2 separate regions of the Homo sapiens genome follow, and region 2 is linked to region 1. The links come from fine-mapping of genetic effects on gene expression. A gene starts in region 1. The other region holds a variant in brackets. All regions are shown on one strand. Distances are from middle to middle. Region 1 holds the start of MEP1A (meprin A subunit alpha). Region 2 overlaps ANKRD66 (ankyrin repeat domain 66).

What was found.
Region 2: its variant is fine-mapped to the expression of MEP1A in nasal epithelium (TOPMed, PIP above 0.99).

The regions. Positions count from the first base shown.
Region 1 is chr6:46,790,826-46,796,218 of GRCh38, reverse strand. MEP1A (meprin A subunit alpha) reads right to left here and starts at 2,830. Exons shown (of 14, transcript NM_005588.3): 1 at 2,752-2,830; 2 at 2,643-2,667; 3 at 2,503-2,553. The coding sequence starts at 2,820.
Region 2 is chr6:46,755,850-46,761,242 of GRCh38, reverse strand. ANKRD66 (ankyrin repeat domain 66) reads right to left here. Exons shown (of 5, transcript NM_001162435.3): 5 at 1,737-2,520. The coding sequence ends at 2,322. Among named protein-coding and RNA genes, the nearest start is that of ANKRD66, 12 kb to the right of the region's middle. The variant C/G (reference allele first, on the strand shown) is at 2,539.

The DNA.
Region 1 (5,393 bases):
CCCGTTGATGAGCCCCCACCGTTGGATTTCTGGTCCATTAAGTCTGGGGTGAGGCCTGAGAATGTTCATTCCTAACAAGTTTCCTGGTGATGCCGATGCTGCTGGCTTGGGGACAACACATCGAAAATCACTTCCTTAGAGGAGTAGCTGTGCAGTCAGGGTGGCTGGAAAGCTCAAGTAGGAAGGGGAAGAGTAGTCAGGGGCAGATTGACTCACACTCTGATGTGCATAGAAACCACTTGGGTCTGTCAAAATGAAGATGCTAATTCTGTAGGTCTGGGGTGGATCCTCAAATGCTGCATTTCTAAGAGAAAGCTCTTGAGTGACACAGATCACTTTGGCCTGTGGACCACACTTTGGGAATCAAGGCTCTAGGGCCTTTACTTTATGTTGAAGGAGAAGTCATTAGATGGTTGGAGCAGAGAAATGACATGATCTGAAGGATATTAAAAGGAGAGCTCTATGTTGTGCAGAATAGTCTTTAGGGAGCAAAGGCAGAAAGGGAAGCACAGTTATGAGGCCTGTCAAAGGACCAGCCCAGACATGAGGTGGCTGACCAAGGTAGGGGCAGTAAAAGTGCTGAAAAGTCTCAACTGTAGTATGATTTGAAAGTAGATCTAGGCCAGGCGTGGTGGCTCATGCCTGTAATCTCAGCACTTTGGGAGGCTAAGGTGGGCGGATCACAAGGTCTTGAGTTCAAGACCAGCCTAGCCAACATAGAGAAACCCCATCTCTACTAAAAATAGAAAAACTAGCCTGGCATGGTGGTGGGCACCTATAATCCCAGCTACTCGGGAGGCTGAGGCAGGAGACTCGCTTGAACCCAGGAGGCGGAGGTTGCAGTGAGCCGAGATGGCACCACTGCACTCGAGCCTGGGTGACATAGCAACACTCCATCTCAGGAGAAAAGAAAAGAAAAGAGAAAAAAGAAAAGTAGATCGAGTAGATCGAATAACATTTGCTGACAGATTGTGTGTCAGGTGTGAGAGAAAAGCAAGAGTTAGGGGCAACTCTAACATTCTGAGCCGAAAATCTAGAAGGAGTGAGTCACATTTACTGAAATGAAAAGGACTGAGAGGAGCAGGTCTTGGGATGGAGGATAAGAAACGTTTACTCAGCCTTGTGAGGCAAAAAGAAGATGGTAAAAAGGTGGCAATTTTCTCTATATGATTTTCCCAATTTATGGTGTTAGAATCTGGCCATATGGCTAACCCAATCAATCCTGGTGGTTTGGTTGAAATGGCCTAAAAAGAAGATTTACATGGTAATGAGATTTCTCCACTGGGGTCAAGGATCAGAGGTGGTGGTGGGCCTAAAGAGTACAAAATGGCAAAGAGGTAAATAATTAATTTTTATTAGATAAATAATGATGAGATTAGAAAAACTCTAATTCTAATCCCATTTCTGTTGTAAAATACAGCAGATTCTCTGAACTGTTTACACAATGGCTAACTCTAAAGAGAGATATTTTAGTGCCTGGCTCTGAAGTCTTGGGACCCATTTATGCATTCACCCATTTACCTTCCTAAACTATTTCTGCTCTGCCTATGCAGCCATTCTCCAGCTATTCCAATTAAATATCAACTAACTGGCTTCTCTGTGAGTGAGACAAAGCCAGAAAAATTGACCCTTAGTTATTGGTATGTTAGTTTTGTAGCCTTCAGATAGCACTGAGCTATTAAGGTATGGGCTACAAGATCTGGAAGTAAGCCCCATCACTGCTACCTATGATCTTGAGCAAGTCACTCTACCCATGAGAAGCCACCTGTCGCTTCCCAAAAAAATGAAAACAGCACTTACTCCACGACAAGACTGGACAAATAAATATGCAATTGCATATAAAAGCTTTTGTAAACTGAAGGTACTTATTATCATGAATAGCTCTGCTTCCACAAATCCTGACCTAAGACACTGGGAATGCAGAGGCTTCTCTCTCATTTCAGAAGCAGGACAACAGAGAGAAAACAGAGATGATGACTCAGCTTCTCTCTCCTCTCAGTAATGGATGAGACTGATGAATTTCTTCAAGAAATATATTTGTAAATGAGATGTCTAAGTGGAGATTGCTTTACACTCACCCCTAAGTCTCAACCGAGGAGTTGTTAGTGAATATGATGGGCCAGTGGAGGGGTTGGGTTTTGTTTCCCCACTAAATATAACCAGAGGCTTATTCTTATATTTTTCTTTAACAATCGGAATAATTATCTATTTGCTTTCCTTTTCCTCCAAATACAAATTGGAAAAATAAAATTTTTATAAAGAGAAACTTGTTACATATTTCTAGATCCATTGAGGACTTCCTAGCTCTCCTAGAAAGTCTGGTCTAACTATCTTCTCTTTCCGCATTTTTATCTTTCAGAAAATGCAATTTCTCACAAAGCACCAAAAAATATTTCTCCCCCAGAGAATCACAATACAGTATTAGGAAGGAAAGTGTTCAGTAATCCCACCACTGGGTTTCAAGTAATTTCAAGACTTTAATAACACAAAAATTGAACTCACCTAAATTGATTTCTGAAATATCCTTCTGTTCACCAAAATCTGCATCATGTACTGTTAAAAGTGAGAAAAAAAATTATTATTAGTCTTGCCGAAGGAAAAAAGTTCAAAAACACTCTCTGTGCATTTGAACTAATTCTTACCATTTTCTTCAGGAAGATACTTAATCTGAAAAAAATAAATATACAGAAAATGGATAATGTATACTAGAATTAATATTTCTAAATATCCAAAAAGCAGGACTCGACTTACCGGTACAGCTGCTATGTGGGCAAAAAGCAAGGTAAAAAAGAGAATGCAAGTGGATCTAATCCAAGCCATTGCTGCAAGTGAGCTGATTTTAGCACACACCTTGTCATAAATACCGTTTAGACTTTACCCTGACGGTCGTATTAGAAACTTTGACCCTTCCATATGTACCGTAGTGCCAATAAAGGTTGTCAAAGATAACATCATTGACTCTTTCGAGGACAAACACTAAGTTTACCTTAAATGCTTAAGCTCCAAAGACTGGGGAAAAGTTTGAAAAATTAATACGGAAATGAGCATATAAGAACTAATAACATTCCTATAGGGCAGCCATAGCCATTCATATCATAAAACAGGATAGACGATCCCCTTAACAATAAAAATAAAAATAATTTATAAAATTATTATTATTTAATTCTAATAAAATATAAATTCAAATTTTATGGAAATGTTATAAAGCAATTATTGAAGGACATAAAAATACCTGACTCTCTCTCTATATGTACATATGTATGAAATATTAATAGATTGTTTTAATATTAATCTATAAATTCATTGTCATTCTAGTAAAAAATCTAACAGGGTTTTCAGTGGAACTTGCCAAGCTGACAAATGGTTCAATTCGCATGAAAGAGTAAACATTGAAGAATAGATAAGAAAATTCTGAAAAGGCTGAATAAAGAGAAAAGAATTGCCTCAAAAGAATATCAGGAGCTTTGGTAAAGTTACAGTAATTAGAGTGTAATAGTTCCAAAAATAAAGATAAAATGAATCTATAGACTGGAATAGGTAATATCCAAATAGATGCAAGCATATGCAGGGCTTTTATGTATAAGAGGAACCAAAAAGGCAAGAGGGAAACTTGGGTCTCTTTCATAATAATGTGGGAATAATTGCATTTCCATATGAGGAAATACATTAAATGTACACCTGATACCATTGACAAAAATAAATTCTAGATAGATTAAAAATTTAAATATGAAAATATAAACTTCAAAAAAGAAAATATAGGAACATATTTTTAACCTTTAGGTCAAGAAAGATTGCTTAAACATGAAAAAAACATAGAAATTACAGAGGAAAAGAATAATACATTTGACTGTATCAAAATTTAAACTTCTTTATGACAAAAACATAACATGATTAAAAGACAAGCCACAGGTGAGAGATGATATGTATACTGCATATAATTGAATAAGAATAAGTATTCAGGATATGTAAAGAATTTCTACAAATCAATAAAAAGAACAGGAGATTATCTAAGGAAAAAATGAACAAAAAATATGAGTAGCAAATTCACAAAAGACCCAGATGGCCAATAAATATGTAAAAAGATTTTTAGCCTCGTAAGTAATCAGAAAAATTATAGGTTCAAATAGCAGTAAAATACCACCTCAAGCTAAGATTGGCATAAATTAAGAAGACTGACAATATCAAGTGTCAACAAGAAGGTAAGAAAATAGGAAATCTAGTAGGACATCAATTTGATGCTATCTAATGAAGTTGAAATGTGCACAGTTCATAAGATAGAAACTTCACTTCTAGGTCTATATGCTAAAGGAACTCACACATATGTGCACAAAATTCCACATAGCATATTCATTGAAGTTTTTTTGTTATGGTAAAGAATGGGGAAAATGTGTTTATACTAAAAGAAAAGATAAATTATGGAATATATTCAGCCATGCACAGGTAAATGTTTAATAATCGGCTCTTTTAAAAAAAGTAAAAACAAACAAGCAAACAAACAAAACCAAGCCTTTATTTGTAGTGTTTGTTGATTGCCATGGTCAATTTCAAGCTACCAACACCATGTCACTGAATGCAGTGTTGGGAAGAGATGTACACAGTGGGCTCCATCTGCGCCAGCACAATACTAAATATATGCACACACCCACCTATTCTTGCCTGCACCAGATATAAGAATCTTTGGCATTAGAGCAATCTTCAAGGTCTAGAGCCTGCATCTCTCTACCTCAGACTTACTACTGGGCAGGTGGGCTAGTCCTGCTGTCAAAAAAGCATTTCCTGTCACAAAAGACTTTTAGAAGGTGAACAGTAGAGCTTCTTGAGCTGTAAAATAGGAGGCATGTCAACTGGGGGCCTGCTTCTGATGGGCAGAAGCGTTCTATGGCTGATTTTTGTTTTACCTAAGCCACTGATGGTGAGGTGATAAAAGGCCATCTTCCACCGTCTCTAACCATTACAAACCACTAATATTATTTTTTAAACGAAACAAAACAAAACAAAAAGCCAAATTTGCCCAACAGCCGCAATGACTTAAGTGAGCAACTACAATCTAGACCATTTAAAAATTGGGCAATAATCAAATTTTAAAACTGGCCAACATCGTAAGAATAATTGGCTTTAAGTATCAGTGTGGAAAACATATGAGACTTTTATTTCTTAAATGTGTTGTTTAATTTTTCTCAAATTCTGAAGCAATTATGGTAAAACTGAATATTTGGTAAAACTGAATATTTGTTAATCTTGGAAACCAGGAAGTAGGAGTTTGTTATTTTATTTTCTAAAGAAAAAGGCAGTGCTGTTGCTTTGGTACACCTCTCTACTAAATCTCAGGTATCAGGATTTCAAACAGGGAATAGTGAGGCTGTTTAATTCTCTCCACCTTCTCTTGCTTCCAG
Region 2 (5,393 bases), 35 kb after region 1:
GTGACCCACACCTTGTTGAGGACATTGTACTAAGTAGCTAACATGTATTATCTCATTTGATCCTCACCACAACCCTATGACATAGGTGCTGGTATGATCTCCCTGTTTACAGAAGAGGAAACTTGAGAAGTTAAGCAACCTGCCAAAGGTCTTAGAGCCTGAAAGATTAGCCCATCGACCAAATCCAGCCAGGCTTTACAGCCAGCACAAACATCGGTCAGGTGGCCTAGGGCAAGTCATTCAACCTCTCAGAACTTCAGTTTGTGATGTCAGTTGGGGATAATGATACTTGCCTTGCAGGTATGTCATGCAGATTAGATACAATCCATGTAAAGCACTTAGTATAGAGTCTATGTTGCATTAAATTATTCATACAGAGAAGCTATTTTAGCATTCTCTTCCTGTTGTTCTCACTTACTACCTAAAAACTTGTGGGAGAAGACATAAGTCTCTTTATATCTCAATGAGAATAAGTATGAAATGAGGGCACAATGAGGGCACTGGGAGGCCATAGGGTTGTGGACACAACCAAAGACACTTTGCTTATCACAGTTTTGTCCAGCTGATGGAGGACAGGCTATTATCCATGCCACAAAACTAGATGGGATATTTATGGACTGGACAATAAAGAGCCTCATGTGACCTATAAAAGGCATTATTCCTGGATCCCTTTGGGATTCCCAGGGGAAAACTGAGTTCACTTCTATAGTAATACAACAGTCATGACATAAACCAGTTATAGTGTGCCAATGTCAGCATCTTACACACATTGTCCATCTCATCCTCACAGCAACCCCAGGAAATGGGAATTCTTTTACCTATTTCCGTAGAGGAGGATACAAACCTAAGTCACCATTACTCATAAGCCCATGATTAAAATACTGTACTTATTAGAAAAGTCTGCTTGCAAGGAAAATAATCAATTCAATATACTGTAAGCAAAGGGCAACTTTTATGATAAAATAGTATTTCACAGATTCCTGAGTAAGGAACCAGAACTAGGAATAGCAAATTATCTAACTATTCATCTCTATCTATCTATCTATCTATCTATCTATCTATCTATCTAATCTCTCTATTCATTTATCTACTGACCTATCTCTATCCCTTTGTCTTTTCCTCGGTCTTCTTGTCCTTTTTGTAGAGCATCTCTGTACCCTTCCTCAGCCCTAGTGTAGAATTAGCCACTCCATACTTCTGAAGTCATCTGCTATTGGTCCAGCCTATCATGAGGATTTCTTTTCAAGTACCCAGGAGAAGAATCTTATTAGTCCAGCTCGAGTCAGTTGTCTTCCAATGTTTCTACTGGTCCAAAGCAGGAACTACTCTGCATTGCAGAGCATAGAGAAAGGGATTGATGCTCAAGGGTAGATCAACACGAGGAAAGGTATCCTCTATAGCTATACTGCTTTTCTATAAGATATTCAAGCATTTTTTTCATACCAGAAAATTCAAACAAAGCATGACTTGTATTAACACAAGCATTAATTGAGGAATAAGTAATAAAGATACTTGATAGCTAAATAAATTGATTTAGGCAGAGAAATTAGTATATCTAAAATGCAGAGCAGCCAGGGAAAGTAAAATACACCAGACTAGTCTCCTAGTAGAGGCTTAACATGCTGTTTGGGTTCTATAGCAATGCTGTCCAATAGAAATAAACTAAAAAAGCACATGGGTAATTTTAAACATTCTAGTAGCCACATGTTTTAAAAAGGAAAAGGAAAAAGATAAAATTCATTTTGGTAATATATCTTATTCAACGCAATATCCAAAATATTATCATTTCAATGTGGAATCAATATTAAGTATTATTAAGGAGACATTTTATATTTTTGTACTAAGTGTTTGAAATCTAATGTGTATTTTGCATCTCAATTTGGATGCAATTTTTTATTGGAATTATCTGATCTGAATTTAATTTTCCCAAATTTACAGTTGAAAAAGTAGACCTATAATCACATGTTCATTATTTTACATTATCTCTCGATCGTTATCAGGGATGAAGTTAATTCATGCCAGAGTTTCCTTGTCTCCTGAAATTCTATTATTGTTGGGGGGCAGGGGTCAAAAGATGCTGACTGTGCAAACCACTGATGACAAAATGCAAGCAGGTTTTGTCCTTTCCCGGTAATTATTGTACACAGTAGGTGCTAGCCAGGAAACAACAGCCCATGTGGACAGCACCTAATGACAGGTCCATGGGCAGAAGCCAGGTGGGTAAGGGTCTATGAGTAAAGTCATGGAAAGGCCACCATGCCTAACAGCCTCATTTCTGGCACCAGGGAAAGTTCCTTGCCAGAAAACATAAGGTTGAGTTCTCATACTCTCCTCCCCTTGGTATTGCTGGGCCTGGTGGGGCCTCGACTTTTCTTATTCTTTTTATTCATGTTTTGATTTAGGGAAGGAAGAGACAGCTCCAGCTCCCTTTTCTTGGCATCCCAGTCTTCATCACGCTCATCCAGAGGCAGCCCCTTCTGCTGGGCAGCGCAACGGTGGTCCTGGCACTCGGGCTCTGCCCTAGGAAAGAAGAGAGAG[C/G]CTTCTGAACTTGGATCAGGAGGACCTGTTCCAGCCTGGGAATCGGCCTTTATTCACAGGTTCTGCACACCGCAGTTCAGTTGAGAAGGAAGGAGGCCAAGTTTGAGCATTTCCAAGCATACACTTAGGGAAGGTCTCAGACACTAAAGAAACTACTTGGAGGTGGAGAAAAATTGTGGGACCCGAGTGAGATGTTAACAGACTCAAAGATAGTCACTCAGCTTGAAGAAAATGCTCCTGATTCTTGAAGTGCTCACATTTATAGAGCAACCTGCAGATTATTGCGAGACTGTTTTCGTTTATTTTTAGTTTTATTTTTCATAATCATAAAAGTGATGTGTGTTCCTTGTATAAAATTTAAAAGTACAGAAACATATAAGGAACAAAATGAGAATCACTCACAATCACATATGTATTATACGTATGTATGGATTCTGTAAAAATACATATAATTGTAAATGGATACATGGATGGATAAATAAATAGAGCATTATACACACATAGACAATGGGAAATACACACATATACAGTTTTGTATGAGGCCAATGGTGAGTATGTGACTTGCTTAAAGGTACTTGGAAAAGTCACTTTTGAACCAATATGAGGACAAATGGAATTTAAGAGGATAGATAATGGTATAGGGAAGGCAAATAGCATTTTAAGTGCAAACCATTATTAAAAGCACAGTTCATTCAAAGGACAGCAAACTCACTAGTCCCTCACCCTAAGCTGGAAGTGACCTTTCAATCTTCAGACCACACCATGTCTTTCCTCTGCCTAGTCACTCTCTGTCTTGTATTAGTGTTATTTATGTAAACAAGTTATTTCGTCTCCCACACAGTTAACCTTCTTGATGTCCAGCACTGTATCTGGTTTATTTTAGGTTGTTTTTAGTGTCTAACTCAATGACATACACATAGTAGAACTCAAAAATATTTGCTAAATGAGAGGTTTATCACTTGGGGGGCTGAATCAAAAGCTGAATTGTTTCACAACATTCCCTAGGATATTCAGAAAATGATCACATATGGTCTAGGCTTCTTTTGAAGTTCTCTTATATCCTTTATCTTCATCACCTAGCCCAGGAGCCAACTTACTCAAAATGTGAATCAATAAGAAATTCCTTAAGTGATCCCCTTGCCTAAAGTCTAGCAGTCTTCAATCCCACGCAGTACCACTGCCAACTCCTCTACTACACAAATAAATTGCTAATGCATCTGTTTCAGCTTGTGACTCCCCTGATGAGCTCACACTCTTCTGCTTGCCTAGTTCACTGTGGTCACCCACCCCGTCACCTGACCTTATGCTCCATTCCTCTCTAGTGTGAATGCTCTGCCTAGCCAGGCCACTCATCCCTGCACTCCACTATCCCTCACCTTCTCACATATACACACAACCTATGCACATTTCCAAGTTGGTGCCTTCACTCTAAATCAACAGTTTTTCTCCCTCCTTCATTAGCCAGCTAGCTTTCAAGATCCAGGTTAATCCCCCCTTAATTCAGGATTCTTCTCCCTAAACGCTCTGTCAGGGAAGTTCTTAGTGGGAGCTGATAATAAGTAGAAATGACTCACACGTGATGTGACTGACCTTTATTGTTTTTGCTGGCTCAACACTGTCTGCCTACTTTTCTTGGTAATAGCACTCCCCACTATTTGGAGGCAAGCACCCCTCCTGCATTTCAGTTATGCTGGGATCATATTTCATGTTGATCCCTGGTCACTAGGGAGGGGCTGGGATTACTTAGAGAGAGTCAGTAGAGGACAGCCAAGGGCAGGACCCTAAGGAATGTCAGCATTTAAAAGGCACGCAAGAACATATCATAAGATTTATTCTTAGAAAAAGCACATTTTAAAAGTCATAAGGAATTATCAGAGAAGTAGAAGAAAAACTAAAAGAGAATAGCATCAGATAAAACAAGGGAGAAGAGTTTCAGGAATATTAAATACCGAATTAAGTGGAGGTAAGATGTGAATTGAGAAGAGGCAATTGATTTAGCGTGAGGAGCTCCCTAATGACTTGAGTGACAGCTGATTCAGTATGGGGATCAGGGAAGAAGTCTGAAGCGTGGGTGAGAGGTGAAGAAGTGGAGACAATTACATAGATTAGTTTCCTCAAATTTAATGTTTCAAAGAAGTACAACTATCATGATTAATACTGCTATATTATATGTTAAAGTTCCAAGGCTATATAAAACTATCAAGTAATATCAGTAAGCGTTCCTATCATAATATTCAAGCAAATGAAATAACGTTGCCTTTTTGAGAGAAAAACATATTTTGAAACTTTTACAAGCAGACATAAAGACAGTTGACATTTCCAAAAAGGCACACGTAATTTATGAAAATCTATTACATTCCAAATTTAGTACAAACTCAAAGCTGATCTAATTCTGATACTTAAAATGCACCTCTCTCCTTTGGCTGAAAATGAAATAACAAACCCTTCCAATTAACAGACATTTAAAACCTACTCAATTTGATTGCTAACAAGTCAGAGGAAGGACATGTTGTCCTTCCCCAAGATTTTAGGACCTAATGTTTACCATGATCTTAGATCTTGCAAATACAAACTACTAAAGAAGTCAGGCGTTTCTTGATTTATATAGAGTCAAAATTCTATTCCCCTGGGGAGAAGAAAGAGAAGGTAGTTGTTTAATGGGTGTGGAGTTTCAGTTTTACAAGATGAAAAAGTTCTGGAGCTCTGTTTCACAACAATGTAAATGTGCATAACACTGATGAACTGTACACTTTAGAAACAGTTAATATGGTAAATTTTATGAGTTTTTCATCACAATAAAAATACAGAAAACTATTCAAAAATTATATTTTTTACACAAGTTATTACTATAAAAC